2 separate regions of the Homo sapiens genome follow, and region 2 is linked to region 1. A link means that fine-mapping ties the variant in region 1 to the expression of a gene that starts in the linked region. Tissue or cell type: whole blood. Region 1 holds a variant in brackets; the other region holds the start of a gene. All regions are shown on one strand. Distances are from middle to middle.

What was found. PIP is the estimated chance that this variant, and not a neighbour inherited with it, causes the effect.
Region 2: it holds the start of SLC44A5, and the variant in region 1 is fine-mapped to the expression of SLC44A5 in whole blood (TOPMed, PIP 0.97).

What each region holds. Positions count from the first base shown.
Region 1 is chr1:75,382,455-75,390,564 of GRCh38, forward strand. All of the region lies in intron 3 of SLC44A5 (solute carrier family 44 member 5), which reads right to left. Among named protein-coding and RNA genes, the nearest start is that of SLC44A5, 220 kb to the right of the region's middle. The variant A/C (reference allele first, on the strand shown) is at 3,827.
Region 2 is chr1:75,606,693-75,614,802 of GRCh38, forward strand. It overlaps SLC44A5 (solute carrier family 44 member 5), which reads right to left and starts at 4,422. Exons shown (of 24, transcript NM_001130058.2): 1 at 4,348-4,422.

The DNA.
Region 1 (8,110 bases):
GACGATGGCGGTTTTGTCGAAAAGAAAAGGGGGAAATGTGGGGAAAAGCAAGAGAGATCAGATTGTTACTGTGTCTGTGTAGAAAGAAGTAGACATAGGAGACTCCATTTTGTTATGTACTAAGAAAAATTCTTCTGCCTTGAGATTCTGTTAATCTATAACCTTACCCCCAACCCCGTGCTCTCTGAAACGTGTGCTGTGTCAACTCAGAGTTAAATGGATTAAGGGCGGTGCAAGATGTGCTTTGTTAAACAGATGCTTGAAGGCAGCATGCTCCTTAAGAGTCATCACCACTCCCTAATCTCAAGTACCCAGGGACACAAAAACTGCGGAAGGCCGCAGGGACCTCTGCCTAGGAAAGCCAGGTATTGTCCAAGGTTTCTCCCCATGTGATAGTCTGAAATATGGCCTCGTGGGAAGGGAAAGACCTGACCATCCCCCAGCCCGACACCCGTAAAGGGTCTGTGCTGAGGAGGATTAGTAAAAGAGGAAGGAATGCCTCTTGCAGTTGAGACAAGAGGAAGGCATCTGTCTCCTGCCTGTCCCTGGGCAATGGAATGTCTCGGTATAAAACCCGATTGTATGCTCCATCTACTGAGATAGGGAAAAACTGCCTTAGGGCTGGAGGTGGGACCTGCGGGCAGCAATACTGCTTTGTAAAGCATTGAGATGTTTATGTGTATGCATATCTAAAAGCACAGCACTTAATCCTTTACATTGTCTATGATGCAAAGACCTTTGTTCACGTGTTTGTCTGCTGACCCTCTCCCCACAATTGTCTTGTGACCCTGACACATCCCCCTCTTCGAGAAACACCCACAAATGATGAATAAATACTAAGGGAACTCAGAGGCTGGCGGGATCCTCCATATGCTGAACGCTGGTTCCCCGGTTCCCCTTATTTCTTTCTCTATACTTTGTCTCTGTGTCTTTTTCTTTTCCAAATCTCTCGTCCCACCTTACGAGAAACACCCACAGGTGTGTAGGGGCAACCCACCCCTACAATGGAAGATGAAATGAATGAAATGAAGCGAGAAGGGAAGTTTAGAGAAAAAAGAATAAAAAGAAATGAGCAAAGCCTCCAAGAAATATGGGACTATGTGAAAAGACCAAATCTACGTCTGATTGGTGTACCTGAAAGTGACGGGGAGAATGGAACCAAGTTGGAAAATACTCTGCAGGATATTATCCAGGAGAACTTCCCCAATCTAGCAAGGCAGGCCAACATTCAGATTCAGGAAATACGGAGAACGCCACAGAGATACTCCTCGAGAACAGCAACTCCAAGACACATAATTGTCAGATTCACCAAAGTTGAAATGAAGGAAAAAATGTTAAGGGCAGCCAGAGAGAAAGGTCGGGTTACCCTCAAAGGGAAGCCCATCAGACTAACAGCAGATCTCTCAGCAGAAACCCTACAAGCCAGGAGAGAGTGGGGGCCAATATTCAACATTCTTAAAGAAAAGAATTGTCAACCCAGAATTTCATATCCAGCCAAACTAAGCTTCATAAGCGAAGGAGAAATAAAATACTTTACAGACAAGCAAATGCTGAGAGATTTTGTCACCACCAGGCCTGCCCTAAAAGAGCTCCTGAAGGAAGCACTAAACATGGAAAGGAACTACCGGTACCAGCCGCTGCAAAATCATGCCAAAATGTAAAGACCATCTAGACTAGGAAGAAACTGCATGAACTAACGAGCAAAATAACCAGCTAACATCATAATGACAGGATCTAATTCACACATAACAATATTAACTTTACATGTAAATGGACTAAATGCTCCAATGGAAAGACACAGACTGGCAAATTGGATAAAGAGTCAAGACCCATCAGTGTGCTGTATTCAGGAAACCCATCTCACGTGCAGAGACACACATAGGCTCAAAATAAAAGGATGGAGGAAGATCTACCAAGCAAATGGAAAACAAAAAAAGGCAGGGGTTGCAATCCTAGTCTCTGATAAAACAGACTTCAAACCAACAAAGATCAAAAGAGACAAAGAAGGCCATTACATAATGGTAAAGGGATCAATTCAACAAGAAGAGCTAACTATCCTAAATATATATGCACCCAATACAGGAGCACCCAGATTCATAAAGCAAGTCCTGAGTGACCTACAAAGAGACTTAGACTCCCACACATTAATAATGGGAGACTTTAACACCCCACTGTCAACATTAGACAGATCAATGAGACAGAAAGTCAACAAGGATACCCAGGAATTGAACTCAGCTCTGCACCAAGCGGACCTAATAGACATCTACAGAACTCTCCACCCCAAATCAACAGAATATACATTTTTTTCAGCACCACACCACACCTATTCCAAAATTGACCACATACTTGGAAGTAAAGCTCTCCTCAGCAAATGTAAAAGAACAGAGATTATAACAAACTATCTCTCATACCACAGTGCAATCAAACTAGAACTCAGGATTAAGAATCTCACTCAAAACCACTCAACTACATGGAAACTGAACAACCTGCTCCTGAATGACTACTGGGTACATAATGAAATGAAGGCAGAAATAAAGATGTTCTTTGAAACCAATGAGAACAAAGACACAACATACCAGAATCTCTGGGACACATTCAAAGCAGCGTGTAGAGGGAAATACATAGCACTAAATGCCCACAAGAGAAAGCAGGAAAGATCCAAAATTGACACCCTAACATCACAATTAAAAGAACTAGAAAAGCAAGAGCAAACACATTCAAAAGCTAGCAGAAGGCAAGAAATAACTAAAATCAGAGCAGAACTGAAGGAAACAGAGACACAAAAAACCCTTCAAAAAATTAATGAATCCAGGAGCTGGTTTTTTGAAAGGATCAACAAAATTGATAGACCGCTAGCAAGACTAATAAAGAAAAAAAGAGAGAAGAATCAAATAGACACAATAAAAAATGATAAAGGGGATATCGCCACCAATCCCACAGAAATACAAACTACCATCAGAGAATACTACAAATATCTCTACGCAAATAAACTAGAAAATCTAGAAGAAATGGATAAATTCCTCGACACATACACTCTCCCAAGACTAAACCAGGAAGAAGTTGAATCTCTGAATAGACCAATAACAGGCTCTGAAATTGTGGCAATAATCAATAGCTTACCGACCAAAAAGAATCCAGGACCAGATGGATTCACAGCCAAATTCTACCAGAGGTATAAGGATGAGCTGCTACCATTCCTTCTGAAATTATTCCAATCAATAGAAAAAGAGGGACTCCTCCCTAACTCATTTTATGAAGCCAGCATCATTCTGATACCAAAGCCGGGCAGAGACACCACCAAAAAAGAGAATTTTAGACCAATATCCTTGATGAACATTGATGCAAAAATCCTCAATAAAATACTGGCAAAACGAATCCAGCAGCACATCCAAAAGCTTATCCACCATGATCAAATCGGCTTCATCCCTGGGATGCAAGGCTGGTTCAATATACGCAAATCAATAAATGTAATCCAGCATATAAACAGAACCAAAGACAAAAACCACATGATTATCTCAATAGATGCAGAAAAAGCCTTTGACAAAATTCAACAACCCCTCATGCTAAAAACTCTCAATAAATTAGGCATTGATGGGACGTATTTCAAAATAATAAGAGCTATCTATGACAAACCCACAGCCAATATCATACTGAATGGGCAAAAACTGGAAGCATTCCCTTTGAAAACTGGCACAAGACAGGGATGCCCTCTCTCACCACTCCTATTCAACATAGTGTTGGAAGTTTTGGCCAGGGCAATTAGGCAGGAGAAGGAAATAAAGGGTATTCAATTAGGAAAAGAGGAAGTCAAATTGTCCCTGTTTGC[A/C]GATGACATGATTGTATATCTAGAAAACCCCATTGTCTCAGCCGAAAATCTCCTTAAGCTGATAAGCAACTTCAGCAAAGTCTCAGGATACAAAATCAATGTGCAAAAATCACAAGCATTCCTATACACCAACAACAGACAAACAGAGAGCCAAATCATGAGTGAAATCCCATTCACAATTGCTTCAAAGAGAATAAAATACCTAGGAATCCAACTTACAAGGGATGTGAAGGACGTCTTCAAGGAGAACTACAAACCGCTGCTCAAGGAAATAAAAGAGAATACAAACAAATGGAAGAACATTCCATGCTCATGGGTAGGAAAAGTCAATATCGTGAAAATGGCCATACTGTCCAAGGTAATTTACAGATTCAATGCCATCCCTATCAAGCTACCAATGACTTTCTTCACAGAATTGGAAAAAACTACTTTAAAGTTCATATGGAACCAAAAAAGAGCCCGCATCGCCAAGGCAATCCTAAGCCAAAAGAACAAAGCTGGAGGCATCACACTACCTGACTTCAAACTATACTACAAGGCTACAGTAAGCAAAACAGCATGGTACTGGTACCAAAACAGAGATATAGATCAATGGAACAGAACAGAACCCTCAGAAATAACGCCGCATATCTACAACTATCTGATCTTTGACAAACCTGAAAAAAACAAGCAATGGGGAAAGGATTCCCTATTTAATAAATGGTGCTGGGAAAACTGGCTAGCCATATGTAGAAAGCTGAAACTGGATCCCTTCCTTACACCTTATACAAAAATCAATTCAAGATGGATTAAAGACTTACAAGTTAGACCTAAAACCATAAAAATCCTAGAAGAAAACCTAGGCATTACCATTCAGGACATAGGCTTGTGCAAGGACTTCATGTCTAAAATACCAAAAGCAACGGCAACAAAAGCCAAAATTGACAAATGGGATCTAATTAAACTAAAGTGCTTCTGCGCAGCAAAAGAAACTACCATCAGAGTGAACAGGCAACCTACAAAATGGGAGAAAATTTTCGCAACCTACTCATCTGACAAAGGGCTAATATCCAGAATCTACAATGAACTCAAACAAATTTACAAGAAAAAAACAAACAACCCCATCAAAAAGTGGGCGAAGGACATGAACAGACACTTCTCAAAAGAAGACATTTATGCAGCCAAAAAACACATGAAAAAATGCTCATCATCACTGGCCATCAGAGAAATGCAAATCAAAACCACAATGAGATACCATCTCACACCAGTTAGAATGGCAATCATTAAAAAGTCAGGAAACAACAGGTGCTGGAGAGGATGTGGAGAAATAGGAACACTTTTACACTGTTGGTGGGACTGTAAACTAGTTCAACCATTGTGGAAGTCAGTGTGGCGATTCCTCGGGGATCTAGAACTAGAAATACCATTTGACCCAGCCATCCCATTACTGGGTATATACCCAAAGGACTATAAATCATGCTGCTATAAAGACACATGCACACGTATGTTTATTGCGGCATTATTCACAATAGCAAAGACTTGGAACCAACCCAAATGTCCAACAATGATAGACTGGATTAAGAAAATGTGGCACATATACACCATGGAATACTATGCAGCCATAAAAAATGATGAATTCATGTCCTTTGTAGGGACATGGATGAAATTGGAAATCATCATTCTCAGTAAACTATCGCAAGAACAAAAAACCAAACACCACATATTCTCACTCATAGGTGGGAATTGAACAATGAGATCACCTGGACACAGGAAGGGGAATATCACACTCTGGTGACTGTTGTGGGGTGGGGGGAGGGGGGAGGGATAGCATTGGGAGATATACCTAATGCTAGATGACGAGTTAGTGGGTGCAGCGCACCAGCATGGCACATGTATACATATGTAACTAACCTGCACAATGTGCACATGTACCCTAAAACTTAAAGTGTAATAAATAAATAAATAAATAAATAAATCCAAAAAAAAACAGTATTAAAAAAAAAAAAAGAAAATTCATTACCACTAGACCAGTTTTATAAGAGACACTTAAAGGAGTTCTAAATGTGGAAATAAAAGAATAATACTTGCTACCACAAAAACACATAAGTACATAGTCCACAGAACCTATAAAAAATAACTACACAATTGAGACTACAAAGTATCCAGCTAACAACTACACAATTGAGACTACAAAGTATCCAGCTAACAACATCACAACAGGATCAAAACCTCACATATCGTCCATGTGCAGTGGCTCATGCCTGTAATTCCAGCACTTTGGGAGGCCGAGGCGGGTGGATCACGAGGTCAGGAGATCAAGACCATCCTGGCTAACGTGGTGAAACCCTGTCTCTACTAATAATACAAAAATTAGCCAGGCGTGGTGGCGGGCGCCTGTGGTCCCAGCAACTTGGGAGGCTGAGGCAGGAGAATGGCATGAACCCGGGAGGCAGAGCTTGCAGTGAGCCGAGATCGCTCCACTGCACTCCAGCCTGGGCAACAGAGCGAGACTCCGTCTAAAAAAAAAAAAAACAAACAAAAACTCACATATCAATATTAACCTTGAATATAAGTGGCCTAAACACCCCACTAAAAGGCATAGAGTGGCAAATTGGATTTTTCTTTTAAAAAAAAGACCCAACCTTTCTCTGTCTTCAAGAGACACATATCATGTGTAACAACACCTATAGGCTCATTGCTCCTGAATGACTTTTGGGATAGAAAAAGGTCTATCAAATAAACAGGAAATGAAAAAGAGCAGGAGTGGCTATTCTTGTATGAGATAAAACAGGATTTAAACTCACAACAGAAAAAAAGACAAAAAAAGGGTATTACATAATGATAAAGCGTTCATTTAAACAAAAAAGACATATTTGCCCTAAATATATACGCACTCAACACTGGAGCACTCAGATTCATAAAACAGGTACTTCTACACCTATGGAAAGACTTAAACATCCAATAATAATGGAGAACCTCAATACCCTAACTAAGAGTGTTAGATCATCAAGGCAGAAAACTAACAAAGAAATTCTGGACTAAATTCAATTCTTGACCAACCGGACCTAAAAGACATCTACAAGATACTACCCAACAACCACAGAATATACATTCTTCTCATGTGCATATGGAATATAGTCTAAGATCAACCACATTCTTGGCCATAAAACAAGTCTCAATAAATTTTAAAAAACTGAAATCACACTAGACATATTCTCAGACCACAGTGGAATAAAAATATATATCAACGCCAAGAGGATTTCTCAAAACCACACAACTACATGAAAAGTAAGCTCCTGAATGACTTTTGGGTAACCAACAAAATTAATGAAATAAAAAAATTCTTTGAAATAAATGAAAAGAGAGACACAACATAGCAAAATCTCTGGGATGCAGCAAAAGCAGTGTTAAGAGGAAAGTTTATAGCACTACATACCTATATTGAGAAGTTAGAAAAATCTCAAATTAACAATCTAATATCACACTTAGAGGAACTAGAAAAACAAGAACAAACTAATCCCAAAGCTGGCAGAAGAAAATAAATTACTAAAATCAGAAGAGAACTAATTGACATTGAGATGCCAAAATTCATTAAAAAGGATCAACAAAACAAAAAATTGGTTCTTTGAAAGGAGAAACAAATAACGCCAATAGACTACTAGCTAGATTAAAAAAGAAAAAAAGAGAGACAATTCAAATGAGCACAATGCCAACGACAATGGTGACATTACAACCAATCCCATAGAAATACAAAAGATCCTCAGAGACAACTATGAATACATCTATCTAAACAAACTAAAAAATCTAGAGGAAATGGGTAAATTCATAGTCTCCCAAGATTTAATCAGGAAGAAACTGAAACACTGAACAGGCCAATAATGAATTCTGAAATAGAGCCAGTAACAAAAAATGTACCAACCAAAAAAAGCCCTGTAGCAGACAAACTCAGAGCCAAATTCTACCAGGTGTATAAAGAAGAGCTGGTACCAATCTTACTGAAACTATTCCAAAAAATCAAGGAGAGGAGACTCCTCCCTAATTCATTCTACAAAACCAGCATCATTCTGATACCAAAATCTGGCAAAGACACAAGAAACAAAGAAAACTCCAGGCCAATACCCTTGATGAACTTAGACACAAAAATCCTTAACAAAAAAAAAAAAAAAATGAGCAAATCAAATCCAGCAGCACATCAATAAGCTAATTCATCCTATCAATTAAGATTTATTCCTGGGATGCAAGGTTGGTTCAACATACATGAATCAATAAATGTGACTCATCACATCAACAGAATTAAAAACAAAG
Region 2 (8,110 bases), 220 kb after region 1:
CATATTAATTAATTAAGGTCTTCAATGACTTTCATATTAATAAATACAATGGCCATTTCTCAACCCTGATCTTACCTGACCTATGGGCAGCGTTTGACACTGTTGATTATCATTTTCCTCCTTGATACACTTTCTTCCTTGGTTCCAAGACCCCACACCCACTTCTTAGTCACCAGTTGCTCTTTCTCAATCTCCTTTACTGACTCCTCCCCTTCTCACTTATCTCTTAATAATGGAGCAGCCCTGGGCTCAGATCATTTCTCTCAATCTATACTCAATTCCCAGTGAGTCTTCCAGTCTGTGATCTTAAATACCACCAATGTTCTGATGAATTCCAAATTCATATGATCAGCCCAAGCCTCTCTCCAAGACTCCAGACTTACATATCCAGCTTCCTACTTGTCATCTTCACTTGTATATCAAATAAATATTTCAAACCCAAATGTGTCCAAAACTAAACTTCTGATCCTTCCCCATAAACTTGCCCCTTCTACAATCTTCAAATAGTAGTTGATGCCAAGTCCACCTTCTCTTAGTTGTTTAGGTCAAAAACTGTGCATTAATCCATCACTCCTTTCTTTCTCTCACATGAAACATCCTGTTAGTTTTTAAAATTATATAAGTTCTACCTTAAAAATATATTCAGTATCCTTCCATTTCTCATGTTCACCACTGCTTCTACCCTGATAGATGCCACTATCATCTCTCAACTGAATTATTTTTTATAAGCAACTTTTTATTTTAAAATATTAATTGACAAATAAAGACTGTATGTATTCAAAGTGTACAACATGATGATTTGGTATATGTACACGTTGTATAATAAATAATTATTACAACCAAATTTAATAACACATCTGACATAGTTTGGGCTGTGTCCCCACCCAAATCTCATCTTGAATTGTAACTCCCATAATTCCCACATGTCATGGGAGGGACCCAGTGGGAGGTAATTGAATCATGGGGGTGGGTCTTTGCCATGCTGTTTTCATGATAGTAAGTCTCATGAGATCTGATGGTTTTATAAAGGGGAGTTCCCCTGTACATGCTATCTTGCATGCTGCCATGTAAGATGTGACTTTGTTCCTCATTCACCTTCTGCCATGATGGTGAGGCCTCACCAGCCATGTGGAACTGTGAGTCAATTAAACCTCTTTCCTTTATAAGTTACCCAATCTTGGGTATGTCTTCATTAGCAGCATGAAAACAAACTAATACAATATCCATCACTATCTATGCTGTATATTATGTCCCCAGAACTTGTCTTATAACTGTAAGTTTGTACTGTTTGACTAGTATCTCCTCACTTCTCCCACTCCCCCAGCCTTTGGCAACCACCATTCTACTCACTGCTTCTATGAGTTCAATAATTTTGGATTCCACATATAAGTGAGATCATACAGTATTTTTCTTTTTGTGCCTGGTTGATTTCACTTAGTATAAAGTCCTCCAGGTTTATCCATGTTGTTGTAAGTCAATAGCAAAAACAAAACAAAACAAAACAAAAAACAAAAAAAAACAAATAACCCAACTTAAAAATAGGCAAAGGAACTGAAAATATATTTTTCCAGAGAAAAAGATATGGAATCAACCTACGTGTCTATCCACAGATGAATGGATAAACAAAATGTGAGGGGTATGTGTGTGTGTGTGTGTGTGTTGTGTGTGTACACAATGGAGTATTATTCAGCCACCAGAAGAAGAAAATTTTTAAAGAGTTATTGCAAAAGATTCCTTACTAGTCTTCTAGTTTCTCATTACCCCTACATATTGGCTCGATATTCTCAACACAGTCGCCGTAGCAATTATTTTAAAATGTAAGTCAGATCATATTTTTCCTCTGTTCAAAATCTGAACTGGTGCCACATTTCCCCAGAGTAAAAACCAAAGTCTTAAAACTTTCTAAAAAGTTTAATATAATTTAGTCTTCCCTCATCTTTCTGACTTCATTTTCTATTTCTATCCCCCTTACTAATTCCACTTGGTCTTCTTTCTGTTAGTCAAACATACCAGGTATATTTTCACTGTAGGGTCTTTGCTCTGGCTTTTCCTTCCTTCTGGAAGTCTCCTCCCCTTCCACTGCTTCATGTCCTTCAATATTACCTCGTCAATTGGTCCTACCCTAACCACCCTATTAATACTTGCAGCTGGCCCACCATCATCCCATGATTAGCAATCCAAATCCCCCTTACTATGCTCATTTTTTTTTCTTTCTGTCATGGCACTTTTCAATTTTTAATATCAACAATGTATTCATGCTTATTATTCATTGTTTGTCTTCCCTATGTATAGTGTAAACCTCATGAAGAATTCATTTTGTTCCCTGATTTATCCCAAGCATGCTTAGAATAGTGCCCAGTACATAGTAAGCGATTGATTAACACTTATTGAATGAATAGAGAACTACATGAACGAATAAAATAGATTAATATCCTACTCTCAAGTAGAAGAGACGGCAACCTTCCTTTCTTAAATCCTCTTTCTCAGTCTCCTATTTATACCTCAAAGGACTAACTGGGCTGGGAGGAGGAAGGGATTCTTTGGTAAGGAGGAATAGATAAATACAGCTGGAAAGGTTTTTATTTGAATATTTTAGGGTTTCATTTCTTTGGGTTTTTTCTTTTTTAATTGGCAAGTAAAAATTTATATATTTATGGTGTGAAACCTGATGTTTTGATATATATACACATTGTGGAATGGCTAAATCAAGCTATTTAACATATTCATTACCTTACATTCTTATTTTTGATGGTGAGAATAAAAGATTGTAGATTTTAAGAAACTTTCTATCTTCTTAGTTTGGAGGACTGTGAAATCTTGTGCTGTTGGGAGATTTTAGGGCTTTTGTATTCTCTTTATCACTCTGATTTTTGGTTCGGTAGTGCTTCAATTTGGAAAGTATCTTCTAAACTAAATGAACTAGAGGAGCCAGGAATCAGTACTCAAAAAAGCAGAGGAGAAAGCAAGCTGCTACAAGAAACTCAAGGGAAACAAGAAAAGAGAACTTCAGGGTTTCAGCCCAATTCACTAAATAGGAAAGAGGGCTAAGATTCAAGATCAGTGTTGGAACTAGTAACAAATATTACATTTCATGATAGAGGTGCAAAAATAATGAACCACAGGTATATTCATGATCTAATGTTATGTAACCTATTACCCCCAAATTTTAGTGGTTTAAGACAAGAGTAAGCATTTATTATATCTTATGGTTTCTGTGATTCAGGAATCCAGAAGCAGCTTGATTGGATAGCTCTGGGTCGGGGCTATCATGAAATTCAGTCAGATGTTGGCTGAAGCTACAGTCATCTGAAGGCTTGACTTGGTTGCAGGGTCTGTTCCCAAGATAGATCACTCACATAACTAGCAAGTTGTTGCTATTAGCAGGAGGCCTCAGTTCTTCCCACACAGAGCTAAGATTCAAGACTTCTATGCAAGTCAAGAAATACACACACACACACACACACACACACACACACACACACATAGTGAAGTCTGAATATAAATTAGGAACTGAGCTCTTCTTCTCTCTCCATAGGTATATACATATACATACATATACCTATATACACATAGATATCCTGGAGAATTATTTAGAGAGAGCAATATTTCTACATCAGCTCCCTAGGCCAAGTAAGGTGACCCAATGGACTTCACTTTTCTAAAAAGTGCAGTTATACTTATGTATCTTCTCTTACTATTCATCAAAATACCGACAATATTTTGGGCTGAAATGTTAATAATATCTGTATGAACCTCTGCTTCAAAAAATAATCCAAGGGATCCTTGAGTATTTTTAAAACATGGCATCTGGTTTCCCCAAAATGAGCAACATAAGAAAGCAAAGAATACAAAAGAACAAGGCAGAAGCCATAGTGTATGTCTTTATGATGTAGTTTTCTGCTGTACAGTACTGATCACATGGTCAGCTGTGATTCATTTTGGAAGGGGAGTATGAACAGGTGTGAATACCAGTAGGTAAGGATTCCTAGAGATGTTATCAACATCTCAGCCCGAAATATTGTCGATATTTTGGTGAATATTAAGAGAAGATACATAAGTGTAACTGGACTTTTTAGAAAAGTGAAGTCCATTGGGTCACCTTACTTGGCCTAGGGAGCTGATGTAAAAATACTACTCTCTTTAAATAATCCCCCAGGATATCTATATATATACACACACACACACGGAGAGGAAGTGCTCAGTTCCTAATTTATATTCAGACTTCACTATATATATGTGTGTGTGTGTGTGTATTTCTTGAGTTGTATAGAATACGTACTTATGAATAACAAACTTGACCAATTTTCCTACAGACATAGACTTCTTGCATTTAGCAGTATCACTCACCTCTTACTCCATCATTTCTTCAATAACTCCATCAACACTGAACCTTCTAACTCTAACATGCTACGATTCACTACTGTGAAAAAAAAGCTGATGTCATAAACACATTGTGTTCCAGTATCACTAAGGGCCATACCCCATTCTTAGGTAATCCCTGAGGTCCTACTAGCCTTGCTAGCCTCAAAGGAGTCACTTGGAGTATAAAGAGGGGGAGGAGACTGAACAAAGTCCTGGAGCTATAGTATATTTTTTCATTGTTAATCCTTGGCAAAGAAGTAGGTAGTTTGGAGGTGGAAGTAGGCCATGATTACCTTTAAAATAATCTACTATTATTTGTGTCTTTCCTGAATATCATAGCACCTTCTTGTCACAAATGCTTAGGGGAAAGAAAATCATCCAATATACCCCATATCCCACTTACCAACATCTCTACAGTAAAATGAGACCCAAGAGCATGATTTCCTTAACTAGCTATCAAGCAACTACCTCCAACAAACAGCAGTTATCATTAATATGTTCATGCTATTTTCATTTGTGAGGTCTGTAATCCATCAGAACAACCTGACAGTGATTAAGTAAAATCAAAGAGACTTTGTAAACATCTGTGTGCTTTTATTGTTACAAATGCTTCATTATAAAAAGATCAGTCAAAAGCATAAAAGTACCCTGGTTTAAACTTTTTCTGTGTTTGAATGAGAATGTTTCTCTTGGAACATGCTCATATCAGGCTTCCACTTGGCAAAATCACGAATTGGCTGATGTTGTTTTAGAGGCTTTCTCATGTCCCCTTCCAAACATCACTCTTCTCCTTCTGTGGACCCCTTTCTGTTATCTAGGAGCCCCTCATGCTGCCTTCCACATTCTGCCTACTGCACAGTCATGTTCTGGACCCCTCAGAATCCCCCTCTACCATTACAATATGTTTTTCCTAAGACTTACTTGCATTGAAAGGCTTGCCAGGGAAGTGACTAATCTTATCATCTTGTACTAAATGTTAAATTAATCCTCATTCTCTCTAGAATTGTTTTCTAAGCAGGGATTCCTAGAGATGCTATCAATATCTCAGCCTGAAATTGCATAGGTATTCTGGTGAATAGCAAGAGAAAATAACGTGAGTATAACTGGACCTTTTAGAAAAGTGAAGTCTATTAGGTCACCTTAGTTGGCCTAGGGAGTTGATGTAGGAATGCTCCTCTCCCTGAAATAATCTTCCAGGAGAGGAATGTATCCCCAAATAGCAAGTGAATATCCAATGGCTTCTCATTGCACTTAAACTCTATATTCCTTTTTATGACCAAAAAGGCCTGGCTTCTCCCTAACTGTCTCTTCCTTACACATTACACCTCTTCCTTTTGTATGTGAATGTGCCAAGCTACCACCTCATTTCTACCTTAAGGCCTGAAGTGTTATGTTCCAGTTCTTGGCATGCAAATTACTCTTCATCACTTGTTTCCCGACACAAATGCCACCTTTCCAGACAATCTAAAGTAACCTCAAAATCATTTGCTCGCACATCACTTTGTTTTATTTCTCCTGGTATTAATCACTATGTGAAATTTTCTGGTTCATATTATTTGTCACCTGCTTCTTCCAGGCCTCCTCTTACTTCATTGTCTATCATGTTCATTACCGTATCCCTAGTGTTTTGCACAGAATCTGGTACATATTCAGTGCTCAATAAATATGTGCTAAATGAATAAATGAATAAATTAACCTAAACATAAGTTTTACACTTAAGTAATTGAGCAAGAAGTCTTTGTTGTACTAATATTGGAAAAGGCAGGGGTGGGGGTGGTGACGTGATTATAACCAATGTAACCAGCTTGCATTTATAAGACTTGTATTGATTATGAACTATAGCATTTTTTCGTTAAAAACATTATCAATATTGGATTGTAAAAGATTCCATTGGCCTTTCTGAAAGACTGTCCTTTTGATGAGATGTCACAAATGAATGCTAATGTCCCTTGAGAAATCCTGCCAACAGATCTTATTCTTCTATCAATGTTAAGAAACTGCATTTCTCTTTGGCCAATTTCTAGGCTTATGGATAGTCTCTCTTGCTAGGACTTCAGAAGCCAATGAGCAACTTGCCTGTCACAAGATCCGACGAATGATCTCTCCCTGCATGCGGTGTAGCTAAGCAGAGAAGCAGCTCTTGTAAGAGAATAACCAACACAGCATGGAATATTGCTAAATCTACAGTGTTTTATCCAGCAAAGTTCACCCCAGTAGCCTGCCCCTGCCAATAAAGCCTAGAAATTTTTCCTACCAGGCAGTCCCAGTTTAGTTGGTTGTAGCTTAGAAGCAGACATCTGAGAGCAGTTCAGCAAGCCTGCAGTCAGATGCTTTTGTAGAGCTCTCCTCTTAAAAGGCAAAATTGAGGCAAGTCAATAGATTACAACTTTCTGGGTTTGCTTCTGTCATCTATCAAATATCACAATTCATCCTGCTTCGCTAAAGTGAAACTCCAAGGATTTGTTTTTAAAGGTGTCCTTCTTTCTGTGAAATACTAAATGAACTTGTTTTAAAAAACAAGAACAACTCAACACAAGTTGATAGGAGCTAAGTAACATAACTTTTCCTTTAAGAAAAACATGTAGCATGAGAAAACCTTATTTTTAAAGTACTACATAAAATTTATTGAGACCACATGTCGTAAGAAAGCTTGATTATTAATCCTTCCAGAGAAACTGTTAACACTTAACTGCTATTCTTCAATTATTTCACTATCAAATTAAACTTATTCAAGAAAATACAAATGATTCCATACTGACCTACAAAACAAAAACTTTTTGGTGTTTTGAGGGGACGGAAGAATAAAGGGGAGGTGTCTTTTTCATCAAATCTCTTATATGAGCTCATTTCATCAATCTAATTGTATCTTTTTGTGCTTCTGCCAAGATTATTAATTTCAAGGGTAAGATTTTCTCTGGCTACCATGTACTGTAAAACTGTAAAATTTTTTCCACTCTTCATGGACCATTTACAATCTGCAAGGTTTGGGGTGGGAATGAAATGTATTTCTGCCAATGGATAGCCACATCAGCAGTGCTGAAAACCAATCCTTCTGTTTCACTCATCGTGCCATATGGCTCCATAAAAAAGGAGCGAACCAAAAGTGTAGCTCATACGCCTTGTCAATCTGGGCTTAGACTAATTATTTGATATTATGATAAAGAGAGGAATCTGTTTGTAGGTGAATATATTCTCTCTTCTTTCTTTACTCGTGTATCTCTATACCCATGCGCTAATTTATGGAGGGGGGGAATCAGAGGTTTAAAGCCCCTCTAATTTTACAGGAGCTATAATATTTTAAGAAAAGGCATTGCAATAAAATTGTCATACATAGGTTATAATTTTTAACAACAAAAAGTCCCAGGTGTTTTCATAGTAATGTCTTCTTAAGAATTAAGGATCATGATTTTAAACGCTTTCCAGTAAGTGCTTTGAGTACTCCGGAGCAATTAAAAAGCAAGCTGACGCGCCAAGATAAAGTTGTGTCCCCCTAGTGACCTCTAGAGCGGAGCTAAGCTCCCACAAGCCAGACTTGGGAGGAAAAGCAAAAAGCACGCCAAAGCCTGAGCGCTGCTGTAGTCCAAGCCAATGTATTCAGTAATACCCTTCACCCCTCAGTTCTCATCTGAGTTCCTGTCCTTTTTTATATAACCCCAAAGGCTCAGTAAGTCGCTGCCTCCCAGGTCATTGGGCCCATTGTGTTGAAATCCAACTTCGAACGACGCCCCTTCCTTGCCACCATCCTCAG